2 separate regions of the Homo sapiens genome follow, and region 2 is linked to region 1. Evidence: fine-mapped expression QTL. A gene starts in region 1. The other region holds a variant in brackets. All regions are shown on one strand. Distances are between the middles of the regions.

Region 1 (8,000 bases):
CTAGTTTCAGGTTGAAAAACAGCCAAAGTAAAGTCAAGGTTAAAAAACTGAAGAAATTCTGCAACAAGACTAGCCACTAAACGACCTATAAAGATCAAGAAAAAGGTAAGTAAGCAAATCTTCAAAAACTGAATTTTTTAAATTAACATTATGAAATAGATACACTAAATTAATGGAAGAAAGGTTTCTAAATTTTTTAAGTTACAAATTTCCTCTTTGAATAATATGATTAAGTAATGAAAATCTCAATCTCCTGATTTTTTCACTGGGATCATCAGTCTGTAACTAACTGTAAGACAATCATCTCATAGATTTCAGTGTTTCGCTTTTTAATGGTTAATATTGGCTTTTTGTAGTAAAACTGGCTTTAAGCAACAACATCCCAAATCCAAAAATATGTAATAGCAACACGATTGTTGTACAATAAAATATTATTTTAAAATGAGGACCTATAACAATTGAAGACAAAAAAAAAGCCCTGAAATTCCTGATTTCTCCCAAATGGTATCAAGATTCAAAAATTCAGAGATAGATAAACAAGAACAAACTGAACATCTTACCGTCTTTGGTATTTAAAAACTTTTTCAGGCTCTCATTAACTAAAGGAGTTTTGTTCTGTTAAAAAAAAAAAAATTTAAGTGTCATGTGTTTACCCTAAAAACAACTACAAAATATAAAGTTTAACGTTTTCATTGATAAAATTATGGTTTTACAAAATCCATTCTACAACTGTTAATTACTACAGGACTTACTTTGTGCTATTTAGTAATTTCTCAAAGTTAATATAACAAAACCATATATGAAGATTTGTATTTTTAATTTTTAAATGTTTTATAAACTGCTTTTGAAGCTAGATATTTTCAAATACCTGTGTGAAATACAATTAAATGTCAACAACTGTTTATTATTTCAAATACATGAAGTTTGATAAAAGTTTTGTCATCTCAGGTATCTACCATTTATAGCATACTTACTATGAACAGGAATTTAATTATACACTTGTAATTCCCAGTTTATCCATGAAATGTGAGATGATCTTATGCGGCCCATAGGCCAACTTATTTTTGTAATTATACATTTATTTGAATAAGTATGGAAAAAATACTTCTAGACCATCAAGCCTGTGATTGTTGCTGAGAAGAGGCTACAGTAGGTAGCACATGGTAAGCTTCCTTAAGACCACATTAATTGCTGCTACAGTGGCAGCCTCATACACTGCTGATGGGAATGCAAAATGGCATAACGAGTTTGGACAGCAATTTGGTAGTGTTTCTTAAAAGTCACAAATATTCCTAGCATGTGACCTAGTCACTTCACCTCTACATATTTTCTCAAGAGAAATCACAGATCCAAGCAAAGACTTGTATGTGACTGTTCACAGAAACCTTATTTGTAATACTCAAAAACTGGAAACAGCCTAAATGTCTGTCAGCAGGTAATGGCTAAACTGTCATATCTGTACAATGTATTAATGAAATGATTTATTAATACATACCACAACATGAATGAATTTCAAATGCATTATGTTGAAGAAACAGACCAAAAAAAAAGAGTACCTACTATACGATTCCATTTATATAATTCTTAAAAAGGTTTGGGGTGGGGGAGAGGGTTACATAAGGGGCACAAGGAAAACTTTTGAAGGTCAAAAGTTTGAAGGATATGCGCAGTACCTTGATTGTGATGATCATTTCACAGCTGCATAAATTAACTATTAAAAATCAAATTGTACATATTAAATACTTTAGCTTTACTATAGGTCAATTTTACCTCAATAAAGTTGTTAAAATAAAAGACAAGGAGAGGAGAGATCCTCAAGGTAGTTGGTAGGCTGGTTCAGGGAATTCTAAGATAGGGAGTCAACTGAAATATTTTAAGAGAATGGAGGGACAGATCAGATGTGTACTATAAACAGCCAATCTAGGAGCAATGTGGAAAAAGGACTTCAGGGAGATGGTGAGGGACACCACGGAAACGGAGACTGGCAAGTAGGAAGGGGATAAGGCAATCTGGAAAAGAAGAAACAAGCACAAAGGAGGCAGCAGAGCACTCCCTTGGGGACACTTCAGATACACACCTGACAGACACAGAGCCAGGTGATGGCTGAGCAGGTGGAAAGAAGAGCAAGGCCTAAGAAACGCTTAGATTTCTTGCCAGATAAATGATGGTCCCATTAAGGGCATAATACAGTGGGCAGTTTAACATACAGGTCTGAAGCTCGGGAAAGAAACATGCATGAAAGTTACAGGGCTGGAGTTACTGGATGAATAAGGTCAGTCTGTGAGACAGTACAGAATGACAACTGTGGATAAGTCTCAGTCAGGTGTACAGGAAAAAGATCATGCTAAAGAAACCAAGGAGTGGTCAAAACCAGGTTGTGAAGGAAAAAAACCACAGCGGTATTAAAAGCAGAATGTGAGTAAAGGAAAACAGTTTACTCCTAATAGTTATTTAAACATGTTTTCAAGCTCAAAAGAAAAGCCATCAGAAAAGGAAGGGGTCAAAGATACAGTAAATAATTAAAGACTTGAAAGTATACACAAGACAGAGTGATTATTCTTGGACAGGACAGAGCCTCTTCTTCTAAAGCAGTAAGGAAAGAGGTACAGATAAACATAGACACAGGTAAGCATTTTCACAGGTGAGCAATAGATTGAGGGACAGGAGAGGAGGACATAAAGTTAGGATCTAATGGCTTCTACCTTCCCTGTGGAGGAAGCAACAAGACCATGTGTTCAGAGAGAAGGAAGCAGGGGTGACATAGAAGGCTACTGCACAGCTAGGGTGAAGAAGAGAGCTGCTGGGCCTGCTCAGGACCTAACCAGGTTGGTACCTGCCAATTTGCAACATCAGCAATCCACAGGATTGACTGACTCTTCTCCAAGAGCACATATGTGCAAAGTGGGAAGAGTTAGTTTGCTGGGTTAAATGACCACTGAGATTTCTTCCAGACCACGTATGACCGTTAAGGCAAGGTAATTAGGGGTCCAGACCCATAGGGTCCAGAGCAAAATGCTGCCAAGAGAAGACTGATGCCTGCACAGACATGGAAAGGGCAAAGAACTGAAGATTTTGATGAAATTAGAGATTAGGTATACAGGTCTAAAGAAGTGAGAGGACAGTAGACTGATTTGTCATACAGCAAGAGTTTAAGGCTTTGATGATGGTTCTATTCTTGTTGACAAATTCCAGAATATTTACTCAGGATGGTTGGTGGGACTCCGAAAAAGTTAAATTACCCACTTAAATATAGAGTAGTGGCTGCACTTTTAAAATAATCGCTGTCTTTTTCATTGTCAAAATAATTGAGTGGTCAGATAATTTTGGGAAAAGTTGCATACTATATACCCCGTTTCATAGGGATTAATAACATATTAGCTTACTAAAGGATCTGAGTGAACCTGCACTTAACACATTGACAATGGCACCATTTCTTCAAGAAACTCCTATGACCATTTGTTTCAGATTAAGCATTAGTATCAGAGTTACTGTGGTACCTTAAGATTACCCCCAAATTCAAAAGCTACACGAAAAAAGAATAATTTTGGCTCTCTCTCAATAGTAATGTAATCCTTAACAGTTCAAAATTATCCCTAGCTATATGTTACTATAAACTATTTTTAAGACGGTTTTTAATGAATAAGAAATTAAGTATTAACGAATACAGCCATGTTAAAATCTGGAAACTTCATACCTCTACTTTTTCTTGCTCCTCTAGTGCTAAAAACACAGCTGCTCGGAGTTCAGCCTTAAAAAAAAGTTAAGAAACAGGAAATTATAATTTCAAGACAATTTTCACAACAAGCTCACATTTATCCAGCAACAAACACGAGCAAGCCAACGAGCTGGGAGGGCAGGTGCAAAGGTCAGAAACGCCTTCCGAAACGTTCTCAGTCACACAAGCTCTCCGACCCCCAGGCTTCGGCTGGACGCGCTGCTTTCCCGCCGCGGATCATGCCCGAGCCTGAGGAAGAGACGCTGGGGCCGCACTCCAGGGCCCAGCTGCGGGCCGCCCGTGTGGCCCCCAAGCCCCGCGGTCCCGCCCCCACGGAATGAGGCAGGGGATGGGCCAGGCACCCCCAGTCCGCGGTGCCCTCCGGGACCACACGAACGAACGAGCCGACCCCCTCTGTGGGGCGGGCAGGACGGAGGCCATGCCGGGGCGCGCCCCCAGTGCCCGCCGGCCCCGGTCCCTCGCCAGGGAGGCGGCCTCCTCGCCGCGACCGTTGTGACGCCCGCTGTCCACGCAAGCCCTGCGGATCCGCCAGGCCCGGCCCCAGCCTCCGGCCTCACCTTGATGCGGTTCAGGACCCCGCTGTTCTCCAGCGTCTGCACCAGCAGGTCCCGCAGCTCCGTGTCCTCCTCGGCCACCACTGCGGCCGCCGTCGCCGCCATCTTGCTTCTCCAAGACAACCGCCGAAGCCGCGCTAACGGCCAACGGCCGCAGCAGGGTACGCTCCGCGCGCGGGCTACGCGGCCGACGCAGCCAAAGCCCCGCCCCGACGCGCAGCGCGCTGGCCCTGCCCCCTGGCGTCGGGAGGCGGGGCATAGAGACCTCGGGGTTGACGCTGGACACCGAGCCTTGGGGAGCGCCGGACCACTGAGCGCCGAAACTTAGGGTCGGCGCTGGGGGCGGGGCTGCGGGGCGCGGGTGGGCACGCAAGGGGCGGGGCGTCGGCGGGGCCTCCAGCCGGCAACCCGTTGGCTGCCGTCGCCTGAGGCGCGAGCTTTGAAGCCGGCGAGCGGTGAGGAGGAGGCGCCCTCGCGTGTGGAGAGCGGACTCCGCCTGGACTCCACCGCCCACGGCCGCATCCCATCGCCGCACAAGATCGCCGGAGTCATATTATCGACGTAGTTAAAGCCCACTAGCCTAAAGCCGGGCGGACTGCGGTAAGGAGGCCCCGAGACCGAACCTGCAGCCCCTGCAGCCCCGGGGGGGCGCCGGGGAAGGGACTCCCGAGAGGTCGCGAGGGGCGGAAGGCCCTGCAGGTTGTCACCCGGAAATAACGTTCTGAGGCCCCCCAGCCAGGCGAACGCACCCTGCTCGGCCACGGCCTCCGAGGCTAACCGGAAAGGTGCCAGGCCGAGGTGCAGGGGCGGGATGGCCCCAGGAAGAGCCGAGGGCCGAGGAGGGCGTTGGGTGGGCTCCGCGCTGCCCGAACTGGGGCCGCAGTCTCCACTCCCTCCTGCCCCGCGGCCCTCCGCCGACAGCCAGGCGCCGGCGGGGAGTCCTGGACCCCTCCCGGGCCCTGGAAGCCCCGTCCCGCCGGAGCTGACGCGCCCTCTTGGTATCCATCCGGCCGCCTGGGCTGCCCCTCGCCCCTCGCCTTGGCAAAACCAGCCCCCGGACCGAGCCCTGCCTTGGAGAGTGTGGGTGCGCAAGGCCAGCCGAGCTGTCGGTTCCGGGGTTTCGGGGTGCGCCACTGTATGGCGGCGTAAGCCGAGAAGTGTCCGAGGCCGGGCTCCAGCAGTTGAGAGGCTGATTTGGCCACGGTGAAGGACGCGCCCGGAGGAAGGAAACGGGAATCCGAAACGGGCGGTGGCCGCGCCTTTCCCGAGGCCGGCGTCGAGGGCTTCAGCGCCTCAGGGTGGGCGGGAGGGGAAGGTCGTGCGACCCGCGTGGCCGGCGGAAAGGAGCAGCGGGAGCCGCGGCCGTAGGGAAGCCACGGGAAGACGGGCGGCTGCGCTGCGATGCGCGGCCCTCTCCCTGAAGCCCTCGGCTCAGGCGCCACAGGAAAGGCTCCTTCGGGCAGGCCTCAGCTTTCAGCTTAAGTTTTTTTCCTTTGGCCGAGTCAACTGCGGTGCCGAGTTGTATTTTCCTTTCAGAGGTGTGTCCGAGAACCATTCTTAGGAGACGCCTGCCGGCCGCTTTGGGATAGGGCCTGTCTGCCCATGCTGGCTTCCAAAGGCCTCTGTGTGTTCCTGTATGTGGGCGTGCACGTACCTGTCACATGTGTACGCGCAGACCACAGGATGTCCACACTGGCTTCCAAACACATCTCTGTGTTTCTGTCTGTGAGTGTGTACGCAGGTGTCAAATGTGTACGCACAGATCACAGGGTGTCCACACTGGCTTCCAAACACGTCTCTGGGTTCCTTTATGTGCGTGTGTATGCACTTGTCATGTGTACACACAGATCACAGGGCATCCACACTGGCTTCCAAACATGTCTCTGTGTTTCTGTCTGTGGGTATGTACACACATATCACATGTGGAAGAGGTAGGAAGAGGCTGGAACAGGTAAGGGTCATGAAGGTGCAGTGCACTATTGTACTGTTTGCGCTTTATATGTGTTTGGTTAGTTTTGCAAGAACATGCTGGTGAAGGAGAGAGAACCCCAAACAATTGATTAGCAGTGCTACTGAAACTCAGATATACACAGGAATGGCAAAGAAACATCTATGAAAAAAAGCAGATTCTGGAACTCCATCTCCCTGAGATTGTCACTCATGGGGTCTGCAGGAAGTTTCAGGAATCTGCATTTTCTTCTAATAAACGTGGTCCACAGGTTATAAGTTGAGATACAAATAGAATATATAAAGTAAAAAAGGAAAATTTGAAGTTTCCTGCCTAGCCCAACTCTTCTCATTGGTAGTGTCTGTTAAATTGGAAACATATCTCTTTCCAGACATATTAATACCTTTTATACAGTTGACTCTTGAACAACATTAGTTTGAACTGCGTGAGTACACTTATATGTGGATTTTTTTCAGTAAATGGAATATTTTTGGCGATGGCAACAATTTTGTGAAAAACCTCACAGATGAGTCGCTTAGCCAAGAAATATGGAAAAAAAAAGAAAAGAAAAAGCTAGATATGTCATGAATGCATAAAATATATGTAGATACTAGGCCATTTTATTATTTACTATCATAAAATATATACAAGCCTGTTATAAAAAGTTAAAATTTATCAAAACTTACACGTACAAACAGACAGTTACATGGCACCCATTAGGTTCAAGAGAGGTGTAAACAGTTGTAAAGATGCAATATTAAATAATAACTGCATCAAATTCACTGTAGTACATAGAGTACTACTGTAATGATTTTGTAGCCACCTCCTGTTGCTATTGCAGTGAGCGTCAGTGTTGCTGGTATTGGCTAAAAATTCCAAGTAACATAATCATCTCTGAGTGAGCAGTTGATCTCTCCAGTACATTGCATATCACAGTAAAAGGTAAGCTCTTGAGGTTCTCACATATTTCTCGTTGTGTTCACTGCAGTACTGTAAACCTTGCGTAACACCATGGGACCATTACGAAGTGCCGCTAGTGGTGCTGGAAATGCTCCCAAGAATCAGAGAAAAGTTAATGACATTACAGAAAAAGCGGAATTGCTTGCTGTGTATTGTAGATTGAGGTCTGCAGCTAAGGTCGCCTGCCATTTTAAGATAAATGAATCCAGTATAAGGACTGTGGTATAAAAACAAAAGGAAGTTTATGAAGCCATCGCTGCAGCTACACCAACAAGCATGAAAACCTTGCACTTTTTGGGAAATACCTTTTTATCTCATATTGCAAATGCAGCTTTTTGTGGGTGCAGGATTGCTATGAGAAAGGCATACCTATATAATCTAATATTCAAGAAAAAGTGAAGTCATTATCTGACAAAGCAAAAGGAAGATGAAGGAAGGTATGATAATTTTAAAAAGTGGGTTGGCTTTCAAAAAATGTCAAGATAACAGGAGAAGCAGCTTCTGCTGACCCAGATGCAGCCGACGAGTTCCCAGATACCATTAAGGAAATTATTGAGGACAAAAGGCCAGGCTTTGTGGCTCATGCCTGTAATCCCAGCACTTTGGAAGGCTGAGGTGGGTGGATTGCTTGAAGCCAGGAGTTCGAGACCAGCCTGGCCAACATGGCAAAACCCTGTCTCTTCTAAAAATACAAAATTTAGCCAGGTGTGGTGGTGCACATCTATAATCCCAGCTACTGAGGAGGCTAAGGCATGAGAATCGCTTGAACCCAGGAGGCAGAGGTTACAGTGAGATTGCACCA
Region 2 (16,164 bases), 94 kb before region 1:
GAAATAAACTTTCTTCATGTTTGCTGCAGAAAACAGTATTAGTACCAACATTCATTTATTCTGAAGGAATAAAATGGGTCCAATTCTTCCCTACTATAGCCAAATGGAACCGTGCTATGGAACTCAATTATTTTTAAATAAGAGCTGCCCATCATCACTGACACTGGCACTGTAAAGACTTGAGAATGCGCCACATGGAGGAATCTGGAGATTCAGTGTGAACATGAACAATCAACCTTAGTCATGGTAATCATCATGGTAATTACTTCCTTTAATGCATATTTAAATCTGATTATTTAGAAATATTACCTGCTGGTATCTATTATTATGCTTTGGATTGACATTCTTATTAATCAAAAGCAAAGTCTTAATTATTAGAATGAAAAGGTTCAGTCTTTCATCCATCCCTGCCTCCAACTCTCCTGAGGAAGAGTGCCAAAGTGAAGCCTTACTTAAACTCTGACTAAGCTGGACATGGTCACTGTCATTCCCAAATATAATCCTATTATTTCTTGGGATTAAATTTCTAAGCATCTGTCGCATGAAGACATTCAGACAGGGGCCACTCAGAGCTCAGAGCCAATTTTTCAGTGGTTTTTGCCTGTTTCTGTATGTTGGTGCTCCACAAAGAACAAATGGTCAAATAAAATGAAAAGTTAATAATTAAAAATCAATGAAAAGGGAATCTGGCCCCAAATATCTGATGCTAAAGAGACAGATGATGATAAAAATAAAATACTGATTCCATTGGTGCACAGTTCAATCACCAAACATATTTCAATGAACATAGTTCTGTCCTTTTCTTACGGAAAATATTCAAAACTCTTCAAAACAAAGTACTTTCTGGCAAACCTAACTTTCTGTGTTTCTCTTTTAGTGACTTTAAAAATTTTTTCCTATCATTATTATGTTTTACAACTCTACGTTTAAAGTAGGCAGAAAATATAAAAGAAGCTATTGGTGGCCAGTTTGCCTTTTACTATCCGAAGAGCGCGGTTGGGGAGGCTGAAGCAGCTCCAGCTTGGACGCTAATCTTCCATGTTGACTTCTAATTAACCCCTGTTCCAGGAAGGCCTCTAAGATTTCTATTTTATTTACTGTTCCCTGGGTAAGATCTTATGCTTGCCATAAATCCTGCCCTTAGGTCAACACAACTTTGACAATAACCCCTGCCTTTGGGCAGGTTCACATAGCACTCTTGCCTTTCCCTGGGGATCTACTTCAATTGTCCTACACATTCCTTCCCTATGCTGTAGAAGCCCTGGACCTGGGGGTCATAGCCCAGGGGGCCACCATCTTGTTTCCTGGCTGCCCAAGACCATGGGTTCTGTTTGTAAGTCCCTATTAAATGTCTCTTCCTCAGAAACCAAATTTGTCAGCCTCTTTCTTTGACCTCTCGGCTTCCTGGGACTTTGGGGGTAGGTTTGCATAGGCCTGCCTGCCGCAGAACAATAATGGCGAGGATTCATCGATTTGCTGAGGCAAGAAGAATTGATACCAGCACAACAGCCCTGACGAATTGCATAGCGCACCCTTGACGTAAGTAACTCCATCTTAGAAAAACACTCCATCTTATACTTCAAAAGGCACCTCATCACAGGAACCAGAAGTTTGCCTCATCAATAAAGACTGCACCAGATAAGGACATTCCCAGGCACACTCTTCCACTATCAGTCTTCACCAGAGGACTCTGTGGCCATAAAGAACATAAAGAGAGCAGTGCTTCACTAGCTGGAAATGGCCATTTCAACAGACACCATCTTGCCATCACTCATGATAAGCACCCAGCATCTGTCACCAAAGGCTCTGCCCACATCAAAGATTCCTTCTTGCATGACGCTGATGCTGACGACCGCCCGGGCCAGGCCAGGACATTCTTTTTGTCCACATCACTCTACCTGGACTGGCCTGTTAGCCCTTTTTCCTATCCTCTTTCTCTTGACGTTAAATGTCACTTTGTTTATTGTAGAGTGTTTAATCTATAACATCTATGTATTGGTTAAGTATACTCTGATGTACAGTTCGCAGTATTGAATGGCTTGTGGCTTGAGCCTGTGTGCCGGTGGCCCTGACAACTGAGTGAATGGAAGCACTAAGAATTGCCTGCTTGGGAACTCCATGTAGCATATGGCTTTATGAGTAAAATACCATCAGTAAAAGTGTGACATTGTAAAATGACGCAAACGTGAGTAGACCTGGTTATCTCCAACCTTGCGCAGCCCACAACACACATCCACCATCTAATCAGAGATGCAGGCAGAGATTCAGGCCCCATTAACATCCTCCCTAGCAAAAGCATTCAATCTAGAATCACACGTTGTGTTTGTTTCTCAGATTCTCTTTAGTCCCCTTCAAAATAAGTCCGTTTCCTCTTTCCCGGGAACCATAACCTTGGGATGTGGGACAATGGCAGCGTATATGATGTTCCTCAATTTGGGTTTGTTTCGTGTTTCCTTATGACCAGACACGGGACCAACATTTCTGACAGAAATCGCACAGAAGTGGCGCTGAGCTCTCGCCATTGGTCCTATCAGGTGGTGCTCAGTTTCCACTCGTCCCGTTGGACTTGGATACTTAAATCTTCCCCCAGTCCAGACTCCCATTCAGCATTTATTCCCTAGAATTGAGATGCCTCCTGGGACCATGACCTTTGGTTTCTGGGATACTTTCTTGGACACATAAAAGCAAGAGAAGGGACTTTTATCCATGACCAGTTATTCTAGTTATTCCCAGTAAAAGTCATTACTTAAGTACTTTCTCCAAGCAGCCTGAAAACAAAGCCTGCTTTTCCTGTTCACAAATGCCTTTGTCTCTCTTTTTCTCGCAAGTTTCTCTATTCACCTCCTGGGGGATTGTGGTTTTAACTCAACAAGCCCTAAACGTGTTGGTTGTCATCAACCAAGGGTGGGAGTAACTGCTGCCCCCTCCTCTCCATATCCTTCTTCCCTGCAGCTTGGCCTCCTCCTCTTCCTCCTTCTTCCTCTTGCTCCCATTGTGTAAAAGGCAACTCAGTGTTGACTGACATAATCACAAAAGATTAAAGATAATGCAACCACAAGGGGGTTCCCAGGATGTGAGGACTGTGGGTTGAACAGAATCGACACCCATGGCTGGAGTTCTAAGAGGAGCTACGGAAGACAGACGTGCCAGGAGATGCACCCACAGCAGATGCTCTTCATGCACCCACAGCAGATGCTTTTTATCCCCAAGGGTGCCTGACATGGGGCAGCAGGGAGGGGAGCTAGGAGGTTCCCTGCAGAGTGAAGCGTGTCCATGGAGGAACCCAGGGAGGAAAACTGCAGGGAGGTATGGGGAGCAGTGTGGAGGTGTCTCGGCGAGGTTCGTGCCTGGAGACTGGAATAAGGATGTTAGACTTGGGCTTTAGAAAGCAGGTACTTTGACCTGGGGACAGGGGCACTTCCATCATAAGAAACTTACTTCAAATTGTTAGAATAACGTGCCCCACACATCCACACCCAGATCGGTCCTGGGAAGCTTTCCCGGGCCTTGAGGAGCAGCGCAGCAGGAGTAAGGTCCAGGGTGGAGCGCTGAAGGATGCAGAGGCGTTTGCCACACAGGTGAGAGTCAGAGAGCACTCCAGGCCTGAGGGACTGTGTGACTCAGCCTGAGGCCAGGGAACCAGGTGCGGGAGAGAGAGCAGGGCTCCCCGATTATGACCTCCGGGCATCCACAGGACCCCACGTTTGTGCAGGGCACACTGGGGTTAGCGGGGGTGGTCTGGGCACCTAGAAGAGGCTTGGTGGAAAAAAATTGTTGCATTTCCTGTGTATAGGCGGAAGAATTATATATGAGAAAAGTAAAACAGGAGGTATCAGGGAAGGTATTGAACTGAATCAAACTTGCAAGCGGAATCTCTTCACTTTTTAAGTAGAAAACTGAGCTTGCATCCATGAACGTAGCTTTTTATATCTGGTATTAGGCTGGGAGTGGCTCTGTGGAATCCCCTTGATGAAGACATCTCCCTGTGTCGGAGCGCCGGCTCCAGCACCCGGAAGGACCCGAGAAGGCGGAAAGGCACCCTTGGAGCCCAAGACGACAGCCGCCCTGAGCTCCAAAAGGAAAGCTGTGAAGAAACCCAGGCGGCCATGACTCGACATCAGGAAACACTTCAGGCCACGCTGTCTAATGAACACCCTGTGGGCATTTAGAAGTAAACGGGACAAGCACTTCGCGTGCATCGGCCCCAGCCAGCCTTGGTTCGGTTCTGGCTGGGCCTTGAGCGCTGGGCTCGGGCAGCTCCACCTCCCGCAGATCTGGACTTCAGCAAAGCATCTCGCAGATTCCTTTAAAATCTCCTGAGAGGCCGGGCGCGATGGCTCATGCCTGTAATCCCAGTACTTTGGGAGGTCGAGGTGGGCAGATCACCTGAGGTCAGGAGTTCAAGACCAGCCTGGCCACCATGGCAAAACCCCCTCTCTACTAAAAATACAAAAATTAGCCAGGTGCAGTGGCAGCCACCTGTAATCCCAGCTTCTCGGGAGACTGAGGCAGGAGAATCGTTTGAACCCAGGAGGCGGAGGTTGCAGTGAGCCAAGATCGCACCATTGCACTCCAGCCCGAGTGACAAGAGTGAAACTCTGTCTCAAAAAAAGCAGAAAATAAATAAATAAAATCCCCTGAGATAAAATGGCAAATGTAGGCCGAATGACCCTGCTGCTTAGGTAGATTCCTTGCTGATTGAGTCACTTTGTACCACCAGGAATGGGAAGTGATATTTTTGGTGTGAAAAGAATTGATTAATGAAATGCTACATGATCGTGCCATTGGCCTTGTGCTGGTCAGAATTATTTTAAATCAATGAGTTGCATGCAAAAGGGAAAGATGATTATCAAACCTGCTGAATTCTAAGATCTGTGATGGACAACAGATGCTACAGATAGTGCTCAAGGTTCCATATTATCTCATGTGGTTGGAATTCTGAGCTGAAAACAATAAAATATGAAGATAAGGAAATTAGAAACATGTAGGTTTCCAGGGCTCTGTCTGGGACGCTGCTGTCCAGCAGGGATGTAACGTGAGCCACGTATGTCATTTTAATTTTTTAGCAGCCACATTCAAAAAAGCAAACCGAGGCCGGGCGCAGTGGTTCACACATGTAATCCCAGCAGTTTGGGAGGCCAAGGCAGGTGGATCACCTGAGGTCAGGAGTTTGAGACCAGCCTGGCCAACATGGAGAAACCCCATCTCTACTAAAAATACAAAATTAGCCGGGTGTGGTGGCGCATGCCTGTAATCCCAGCTATTTGGGAGGCTGAAGCAGGAGAATCTCTTGAACTCGGGAGATGGAGGTTGCAGCCTCCGCACTCCATCCTGGGCAACAGAGCAAGACTCCATCTCAAAACAAACAAACAAACAAACAAAACAAAGCAAACTGAAATTATTAATTTTCCAAATATTTTTATTTTAACTTGATATATCTAAAATATAATACATTCAACATGTAATCAATAAAAATTGTCAGTGAGATCGTTTAGATTTTTGTAGAAAGTCTTCAAAATCAGGTGTGTAGTTTATATTTATAGCACATCTCACTTCAGACTAACATGCTTCAAGCACTCTGTAGTCACACATGACTGGTGGCTACCATGTTGGATGGCACAGGTAGGGAAATTGGTATACATAAAAGTGATCAGACGAAGGTCATAGGTCACAAGTCTGATATAAGTCCCTGTCACAGATAATCCAGTCTTGGGCAGTGCTAGTAGTAGGGTGTATGAATTATCTATTGCCAAAACAACACTGCCCGAGAAACAACCCTAAAACCTCAGTGACACACAGTGATAACCATTCAACATTGCCCCCAAGTCTCCAGGGTGGTCCTAGGGCCACTATGACCTGGCCCAGCACACTCCCTGTCTGGTCAATCGGTCAGCCAGTGCAGGCTGGTCCAGAATGGCCTTGACAGGAACAACTCTTGTACCTCTTGTGCTCTGTCACCCTCATGCAGGCCAGCCCCAGCCTGCTGTCATGATGGAAGCTGGTTTCCAGCAGGGACCTGGTGGCACAGACTGGAACTGGCACAGCCTCACTTTGCTCACATTCCACTGGTCAAAGCAAGTCTCAGGCCAAGGCAGACTTGGGTGGGGAAGCAGACCCTCCACCTGCAATGGGAGGAGCTGTGGACCACATCCCAGAGGATGGGAGTGCCAGGAACCTATGCATGGGGGCCATCGGCACCATCAATCCACCTTAGCTGGTATTCCAGACGTGGACAGCAACAGGCCCACAGATTGCTATGCTCATCAGTAGAGAAATGGATCATTTCTTCCAGACCTGGACACCCTATCTTAGAAGTGATGTGAGTTGCGTTCAGAAACGCAACCTGAACGGTCACACATTGGGGACCATGCCTTTCCACAGCCACACATCGGGGGCCACACCCCTCTATAAAGAATTATAGCAAGTGAGTGTGTTTAGTCCCAAAATGAGAAAATTAGGGGGCAACATGAGAGCTACCTTCAAATTTTAAAGAGCTACTGTGTGGAAGAAAACAGTCTTGTTCTCAGTTCCCCTAATATTTTCTGAGGGCTCATTATATACTGTACCAGGAACTATGCTAGGTGCAGAGACAAAAGTAGAATAAGGGAAGTTTCCGTAGATACCAGCTCATCCAAAGAAGGACTTTCTAACACATGAATAAGTCACTACTATCCAATAATTCACTTGCCACAGGAGAGCTCTGAAACTGAAACTACTCAAGCAGCTGCATTGTCAAGGGAATTTCTTGCCCAGTTGTTGGTCACTGATCTACCTTCTAAGGGGTCTTCCAAATCTCAATGCTATAAGCTGGCCTTACGTGTGCCTGTTTGGCTTGTGGGGATATAATGTATCATACTTTACATGTACAGACACATCTAATATCTAATAGAGATATATCTAATCAGATATAACAACCTCAAGCAAACCCCAAGTTGCTAGGTGCTTAGTAAATTATTTTGTTACACTGAAGGCTGAAAAAGCACAGAATGATTAAATGACTCAAGATCACGTGAGACAATGGGATAAACTGGAACTGAAACAGACTGTGGGGTGCTGGTCTACGCAGTTCACAAAGCCCCCATTGCTGACTAACCACAAGCCCAGAGGGAAGGCACATAGACTACTGTGCCCCTGCTACTGGTTAGGTTTTTCTTTTACACAGAGAAATAATTTGACTTTATCTAGGCTGCTACAAAGCCAATTGTTAACAGAACTAGGATTAGAATTCAGAAGTACTAGGTGTCAGGTTTCTGTACAAAGAGCAATAGTATTCCACTGAAGCACTTCTGTTTCCCTACAAATACAACCTATCTGTGACTGTGAAACCTCAAGGAATTTGTATTGAGAACCGCTGGCGCGAAGCGGGTGATAACGATAAGAACAGGCATTGTGCACAGCTAGAGGAGCCGTCTGTGGAATGCCGATGGTCGTCTCTTGGTAGAAATAGTAAGAAACCTTAGAACTGATCTTCTTCATTCTGGAAGGCATGGAAACAGAGAACAAGCTGGCCACTGCAGAAAGTTGTAAGACCTTTCGAGGCTGGCTCGACTGCAGCTGCGTTTTGCTTGGCTGTGAGTTTGCAGAACTTTGAGGCTTTCGGGGGAAGGTAGCTAAATCTGTATCAGGGCCAAGGGCACCCCTGGGAAAATTAAGAAACACCTTCTCTTTTGAGGTTTAACTCGACTAAAACCTCTCTGATGATTAGGATGGCCTCAACGGAAGCCCACTGGCCAAAAGAACATCGATAGTTCCCAGGGGAAATAAGTCGTGAGGGAAGGAAGGGTCAACAGGAAACCAGGACTCAGGATCCTGGGCAGAGTCGGCTGGTTTCAGCACCGTCTGAGGCTCATCAGGAAGCTCCTCTCTCACCGACCGTGGCTCTCAGCACTCAGGGAGCGCCACTGAGCATGCGTGAGAACAGCCGCCCTCAGCTCGCGGGGGTGTCAGCTTCCTTTGAAAACCCCCTCGGGTCTGTGTGCACAAGGCTCTGAACTAACCCTAGTGGGTCACCACGCAGGGCCCCTTCTCAGCGCCTGCTCTCCGCTCCACGTGAGGGAAGCAAGGGCAGCGGAGAACGCGTCCCACGCAGTCAAGCCAGGGATGGGCCTCGGGCTTCCTTTCTCTGTCCACGATGCCTCTGGAAGCAGGATACGGCCCTCGAGGCGGGCTCCTGGGATTCCTGGGAACACGGGAGGGTGAGCTATGAGCAGGCCGGGGCAGGGCAATCATGGAGACTGGACTTTTGCTCATATGGGCAGAAGAGTGATCAGGAAATTATTCTGAATGTGAAAAGACATGGCCAGCGTGTGACCGGCAGATGTGTATCCTCCAGTGCTCTGGGAGAACGCAGCCCCGGCTGGTAGCCCGGGCCCGTTTCTGTGAGGTCAACACTCACACCACGGCCAATGTCAGGCAAACAACCCGGTGTCACCGAAGCAGGGTTGGTAAGAGAAGCACAGCCTGCCCCAGCTGATCGCAGCGCAGCCCAGGAGGCGAGGCCACCGCCCAGAGGATTCTGGAAACAGCTCGCCGGGGCGAAGACGCAGGCACAGACAGTGCCTTCCGTAGGGTTCCAAGTATGCAAAACCCTAGGGGAAGCCTCTTCTATTTAGTCACAGAAAACAGGTGAGCAGTTGCCTGGAGCAGGGAGAGACGGGGAGGGATTGACAGGAAGGGAGCTCAGGGAAGCTGGTGGGAGTAGAAAGTTCTAGATCTTGATTGGGGTTGCAGTTACACTGGAACACAGTCGTTGTCAAAACTCACTGAAGTGGACCCTGAGAATGGATGCATTTTGCTGTATGTAAGTTATCCCAATAAAGCTGATATTTAAAAATATGTAACACCCCTCCAAGCCAATGCTGATATTGTAAGGATGATTTTCAGTACTGGGCACCGAGCTTCAGTACTGGGCACCGAGCTTCAGTACTGGGCACCGAGCTTCAGTACTGGGCACCAGGGTAGGAGTGAGGTTCCCTGATTTTCAGTCTTTACGGAGCTTTTACCCAGAGAGCTGCAGAGGCAGCACTGGCCAGAATTACTTTGGAACGCACCGTCTGTTTCTTCCTTGTTGCTTTTCACTGGTTAGTAAGAAGATTCACGAAGCTCCTCTGCCTGGCCACCTCCCC[C/G]CAACATCAACACACACTGGCACAGGTTCTGGAGGGCATCATTCAGACCCATGCTGTAAACACCCTTTACAGGCTGAGCCCTGAGTCCGTTTCCTCAGCAAAGTACCACAAACAATGTGGTTTAAAACAACGGAAACCTACTTCCTCACTCTTCGGGGGCCAGAGGTCCGAAATCGAGGTGCTGTCAGGGGTGGCTCCATTTGGAGGCTGTGCAGGGAACCGTCCCCAGCCTCGCTTCCCATTTCCGGTGGGGTCTGCAGTTCCTGGTGCCCCTTGACTTGTGAATGCATCACTCCAATCTATGCCTCCGTCTTCACAAACCCTCCGTCTCTGCGTTCTCTCCTGTTTTCATAAGGCCTGCCCTGAATGCAAGATAATTTCACTTTGAGTCCCATAACTAATTGCAACTGCAAAGGCTCTATTTCCAAATAATATAAAATAATATTCCAAATAATATTCTGCGTGAACATGAATTTTGGGAAGACACTATCCAGTTAATAATCATATTAACCGACTCCACTCCTACACGCTGTCTTCAGCCTAGAGCCTCCTGTGGAACTCCAGACGCCGACCCCCACTCAGAGTATTCAGAAGAGTCTCAGATCTGAAGCCAAACTCAATTTCACTCCCCAGACCTGTTCCTCCGACATGTGCTATCATCAAAGCAACAGTCAGTCCTTCCAACTGCTCAGGCCCCAAACCTTGCAGTCGTGCTTGGATTCTTTCTCCACATCAAATACGTCAGCAAAATCAGCAAATGTTCCTGGCCATCTCCAGGATGTATTAATAGTGTATATCCCACATTCATAGCCAGTCATTCCCACTCCTTCCTGCCCCAAACTTTTGCCCTCCAGAGAAGGCAAAGCTTTAGCATGATTCAAATCATGTCTGGATTCTGTTCTGAGCTCCCCAGGGCACCCCACATGCGCCAGGATAATGCCCTGTGTCCTCCCATGACTTAGAGGCCCCGTGGAGCCCTCGCCCTTGCCCTGCTCTCCTCCCGCTGCCCTGTGTCCTTCCCAGCTCTGTTGTTTATGCCAGTTGCCCCGGCAATCACACTGTGTCTGGGATCTGTCCAGCCGGTCCCTGCTCTAGGGCCCTGGTCCTTGCTGCTTCTCTCCCAGGTTGCTCTCCAGACAACCACACTGTCGGCCCCTTGGGTGTCTCAGTTCAAGCTTCCCTGACTACCCAGCTTAAAAGAGCTTCCCGATCCCAACTCCCTTCCTGGCTCTGATGCTGCTTCCTTTTCTCCTGGGCACTGGTCCCCTCCTGGCACGTTGTCGCTTGGATGTAAGGCCCCATAGAGAAGGCGCTTAGCCTGCATTCCTGCCTACCCAGGGTCTAGCGCAGACAGCAGGCGCTCAAGAAAGAGTTGCTGAGTGAGCGTGTGAATGAAGACTTGATGACTGACATACAAAATTAAAGAATCTGGGGTTTTTTAAAAGCTTATCTCATTTTTTGCAACAATCTTTAGACCTGATCTTCGATCAGCCTTTAGCTGATGTATAGATAGGGTGAGGTTGCCACAATCTGGGGTAGATCAGCTTTGTGACTTGTCATCTAAAAAGGGGAAGAGGTTTAACTTGAAAGAGAAAAAAAAAACAGTAGACGACCTTTATGTGGAACAGTTACGCGAAGCCTCATCGGTGGCCAGGCAACTTCCTTTCCAACTTCTTCTTACTCGGGACCCTCTGCCCATGTTTACATCTTGCCAAAGACCATGGAAACTGGTAAACATCTTGCCAAATAAAGCTGTTTAGACTGACTGAACATGCAAAGACGCCCTCTGTCCCTTGGACAACTACAGGTCAGGGAAATGAATGGAAGTCACATGAGACTCTACTCTTTCAAATTCCCTTTTAAAGTGGAAATTCCCTCGCTTGGTTATAGTATTAAAGGGAACAAGCCTAAGAAGTGGAATTACAGGAAAAATGGGCACGTGAGGATATGAGAGTATAGATGGTGTACGCTCATAGATGGTACAGAGTAGATGGGCATCATTTGGATAGAGAAACACAAAACACTCTTTGCTGAACTTGAAGATGATATTGCTGGTTAAGAGCACAGACTTGGGAATTATATCAGCATTTGAATCTCGACTCTTGACCCTACTACTTCCTAATGGGGTGATGTGTGTAAAGTTGTTAATCTTTCTGAGCCCTACCTGCCTCATGTGTGGTATATAGAGATGCAGGCACCTCAAAGGCCTGAGTCTGACACACAGTGGATGGCGAAAATTGGAGAGCTGGAGGAGGAGAGGCACATAGGTCATGCCTAAGTCATGAGAACATACAAACAACAAAATCAACAATAGAAATCTAGCTTCACTTGATTGATCCAGCTTGTCGGAAGATTGCTAAGAGATTCCACTCAACAACTAAACCGCCGTTCCACACTATGATTGCTGACTTGAGGCTGGTAACACCTTTTGGGAACGCTGTCTTGGGAACGTTCACAGGAAAATTGCTCCTTTGGGTACAAGGTTTTGAGATACAATCTCTGGGTCAATGAGTACTTTACATACAGGAACCCCAAAATGGAGGAAGTAGGCTATGGAGGAACAAGAAAAGAAGGGAAAAACAAAGCAGCCACAGAGGCGAGGTGGCTGCTCCCCTTCCTGCCACCTGGAGGAAGTTGGAGGCTAGTTCTGGAGACATCACAGTTTCTATTACTTTGGTTACTTGGCAGAGCCTAAAAACTTCCTCTTGTGTGGAAGAAAGAAAATCCTTTCTGTGTTGCTCCCTGGAGGGAAGAAAACCAGGCTGACTCTTGCTTCCATTTGAGGAGCTCAAAGGAAGCCATTTCCCACGATGGTCCCCCAGGCACAATCCTGCATGGAGCCCAGCCCTGGCCCACAGCTCCTTGACTACAATCCCCTTGACCCATTCATCACCCTTGCCACTGGCCCTATTCTTTGTGACTTGGCTCAACACTGGTGACTTCTTCTGCTGCCCTATTCACCTCCAGTCTGAGACTCAGGAGCATGTGGCCACCTGCTGCCACAGAGATGCCACACACATGGCCCAACGCCAACGGGGTCGCTTAAAATACATTGCTGATCTGTGGCCTATGTCTGGAGGAAAGGGGCCGGTGGGGTCCTACAGTGACCCGAGAGGCTCCTATTCTGAACCACAGAGAGCACCACACCAAGAGGCTGGTGTGATATGCTGCTGGGCCCACAGTTTTCATGGGCCCCATGTGCCTGGAGTGAAAGGTCTTTAGATCAATCAAAGAGATCCAGTGTCTGGGGAGTTCTTGTTTCTTCACACTGACCACTTCAATAACGCAAGGACGGGGATTTTCTTGGCTTTGACCAAGGCTGCAGTCTCTCCAGAGCTGAAAACTCAAGTTACTTCTGCCTGGTTCTGGCCTCCCCTGACTCGGCTCTGCCATTAACCAGTAAAACTAGTATCTCCTGTTCTAGAGGGAGGTCGTCATCCTGGTAGAGGGCCATGTGTAAGGATCTGCACCCCTCTGTTTAATTCTCCAGGAAGGTCACTGCAGCTGAGGTCAACTTCCTCCCCAGAGAAGCAAAACCTGTTGGCTGCAGAGGCTGCTTGTTAAACAGAGAGGCGTTACCTCCAGGAGATGTGTGACATCAGACTTTTCAGGGATAGTGCCCAGAAAGCTCAGAAACTTTGCTTAACAAACTCTTCCAGGTGATTCTGATATTAGCTAAATCTGAAAACCACAGAATTAAATGATGTTAGTTTTTTTCCCTCGAAATTTAAGTTTCATACTGACCCTTGAACTACTTATACTGAAAACATTTCAAACATTGATAGTTCATTGATACTAGCAACTGATCTGAAATTATTACTTTGCCTAAAAAAAACTGACAATTTCAGAATATTATCATTCCTTAGTAGTTTGCATTTATGACATTAGATAGTTCCAACTCCTTCCTCCACTTTGTGCAAATGATTTCATGTATCTTATTTCTACATCTGTCATAAACCCTGTTTACTATTTTTAATTTAGTTAACAATTTTTTTTTTTTTTTTGAGACAGGGTCTCACTCTGTTGCTCAGGCTGGAGTGCAGTGGTGCAGTCATGCCTGACTGCAACCTCACCCTCCTGGGCTCAACCTCCTTGCCTCAGCCTCCTGAGTAGCTGGGACTACAGGCATACACCACCATGCCCAGCTAATTTTTGTATTATTTGTAGAGACAGGGTTTCACCATGTTGCCCAGACTTGTCTCAAACTCCTAAACCCAAGCCATCTGCCCATCTCAGGCTCCCAAAGTGCTGGGATTACAGGCATGAGCCACTGCACCTGGCCACCATAGTTGACAGTCTTTTAAAGAATCAGCCATGAGAAAATGTTTTTAATATCCACTTTTACTATTTCTGGTGCTCACTTCTCTGTGTAACCCCAAATTTTTATCTGGTATAATTTTCCTATAGCCTAAAGAACTACCTTTAACATTTATTGTAGCACAAGTCTCTCAGCAGTGAGTTATCTTAGTTTTTCAGGGTCTAAAAAGCTTTTATTTTTGCCTTTAATTTAAAACAATATTTTAATGGATCTGTAATAGAATAATAGAATTCTGGATTAATTGTTTCAGTACTTTAAGATGTCAGTTCATTAACATCCAGCTTACATGTCTGACAAGAAATCTATTACAATTATCTTTCTTCTTGGGTATGTAATGTCCCCCACAACTCCCAAATGCATTCTACATTTTCTCCTTATCTTTGGTTTTAAAAAGTTTGATTTTATGTGTCTAGGTGGGGTTTTTTTTTTTTTTGGTATGGAGATTTTTTATTTGTTTTTGTATTTATACTGTTGGGATTCCCTGAGCTTCTTGGACCTGAGGTTTGCTGTCTTGCATTATATTTGCAAATTATCTCTTTAAATATTTCTTCTGTTTTATTCCTTGCTGTTTGTTTGCTTGTTCTGGGACTCCAACTGCATGTACATTAGATGATCTCACAGCTCTTGGAGGCCTTGTTAGACAGAGTTTTTCCCTCTATTTTATGTTTTTTTTTTTGTTGTTTTTTTTTTTTTTTTTTTTCTGAGACAAGAGTGTCACTCTGTCGCCAAGGCTAGAGTGTAGTGGTGTAATCTTGGCTCACTGCAACCTCCGCTTCCTGGGTTCAAGCAATTCTCCTGCCTCAGCCTCCCGAGTAGCTGGGACTGCAGGCATATGCCCCCACACCAGGCTAATTTTTGTATTTTTAGTAGAGATGGGGTTTCACTGTGTTGTCCAGGCGGGTCTTGAACTCCTGACCTTGTGATCCACCTGTCTTGGCCTCCTGAAGTGCTGGGATTACAGGCATAAGCCACTGTGCCCAGCCCATTTTATGTTATTTGTGTGTCATTTTATATGATTCCTGTTGACCTATCTTCAAGTTCCTTAATCTTTCTTCAGCTGAGACTAGTTCACTGATAAGCTTTCTGAAGGAATTCTTTATGTCTTATATATTTTTTGTAGCATTCCCACATGTCTTTTATACTCTCTATCTCTCTGCTGAAATTTCCCATCTGTTCATGTATGCCATATGCCTTTTCCTCTAGATCATTTAACAAATTCTTCAGGGCTTTTTTGTATTGTTTTGTTTTTGTTTTTGTTTTGTTTTGAGATGGAGTTTTTGTTCTTGTCGCTCAGGCTGGAGTGCAATGGTGCAATCTTGGCTCACTGCAACCTCTGCCTTCTGGGTTCAAGCAATTCTCCTGCCTCAACCTCCCTAGTAGCTGGGACTATAGGCACCCAGCACCACGCCTGGCTAATTTTTGTCTTTTTAGTAGAGATGGGGTTTCACCATGTTGGCCAGACTGGTCTCGAGCTCCTGACCTTAGGTGATCTGCCCACTTTGACCTCCCAAAGTGCTGAGATTACAAGTGTGAGCCACCATGCACAGCCTCATCAGAGTTATTTTAAAGCCCCTGTCTTAGAGTTCCCACATCTGGGCCATCTTGAATTCTGGTTCTATTGATTGATTGCTTTATAAGTTGACTATGAGTTGTTTTTGTTTTTGTTTTATTTTGTTTTCTTAACTGTCATTTTTTGATTTACTGCTGGAAATCATGTGTAAAAGTAGACACTGTTTATGCCCTTAAAAAATAGTTTCATGTCAGGGTGAGGCATCGCCTCACCCGGGAAGCACAAGGGGTCAGGGAATTCTCTCTCCTAGCCAAGGAAAGGGGTGACAGACGGCACCTGGAAAATCGGGTCACTCCCACCCTAATACTGCACTTTTCCGACAGTCTTAGCAAACGGCACACCAGGAGATTATATCCTGTGCCTGGCTCAGAGAATCCCATGCCCACGGAGCCTCACTCATTGCTAGCACAGCAGTCTGAGATCAAACTGCAAGTTGGCAGCGAGGCTGGGGGAGGGGTGCCCGCCATTGCCAAGGCTTGAGTAGGTAAACAAAGTGGCCTGGAAGCTCGAACTGGGTGGAGCCCACCGCAGCTCAAGGAGGCCTGCCTGCCTCTATAGACTCCACCTCTAGGGGCAGGGCATAGCCAAACAAAAGGCAGCAGAAACCTCTGCAGACTTGAATGTCCCTGTCTGACAGCTTTGAAGAGAGTAGTGGTTCTCCCAGCATGCAGCTGGAGATCTGAGAACGGACAGACTGCTTCCTCAAGTGTGTCCCTGACCCCCCAAGTAGCCTGACTGGGAGGTACCCCCCAGTAGGGGCAGACTGACATCTCACACGGCCAGGTACTCCTCTGAGACAAAACTTCCAGAGGAATGATCAGGCAGCAACATTTGCTGTTCACCAATATCCGCTGTTCTGCAGCCTCTGCTGCTGATACCCAGGCAAACAGGGTCTGGAGTAGACCTCTGGCAAACTCCAACAGACCTGTAGCTGAGGGTCCTGACTGTTAGAAGGAAAACTAACAAACAGAACATCCACACCAAAACCCCATCTGTACGTCACCATCATCAAAGACCAAAGGTAGATAAAACCACAAAGATGGGGAAAAAACAGAGCAGAAAAACTGAAAATTCTAAAAATCAGAATGCCTCTCCTCCTCCAAAGGAATGCAGCTCCTCACCAGCAACGGAACAAAGCTGGACGGAGAATG

The links. PIP is the estimated chance that this variant, and not a neighbour inherited with it, causes the effect.
Region 2: its variant is fine-mapped to the expression of CEP43 in whole blood (TOPMed, PIP above 0.99).

What each region holds. Positions count from the first base shown.
Region 1 is chr6:166,995,808-167,003,807 of GRCh38, reverse strand. CEP43 (centrosomal protein 43) reads right to left here and starts at 4,411. Exons shown (of 13, transcript NM_007045.4): 1 at 4,294-4,411; 2 at 3,695-3,748; 3 at 561-615; 4 at 1-85. The coding sequence starts at 4,395. MIR3939 (microRNA 3939) reads left to right here and starts at 5,896; the gene lies at 5,896-6,001. RefSeq lists silencers at 3,950-4,039, 4,050-4,209, 4,300-4,819, 5,110-5,339 and an enhancer at 5,880-5,929.
Region 2 is chr6:167,085,948-167,102,111 of GRCh38, reverse strand. No RefSeq gene overlaps it. Among named protein-coding and RNA genes, the nearest start is that of CCR6, 29 kb to the left of the region's middle. RefSeq lists enhancers at 6,567-6,646, 6,847-6,906, 8,237-8,606, 8,717-8,786, 9,672-9,731. The variant C/G (reference allele first, on the strand shown) is at 9,126.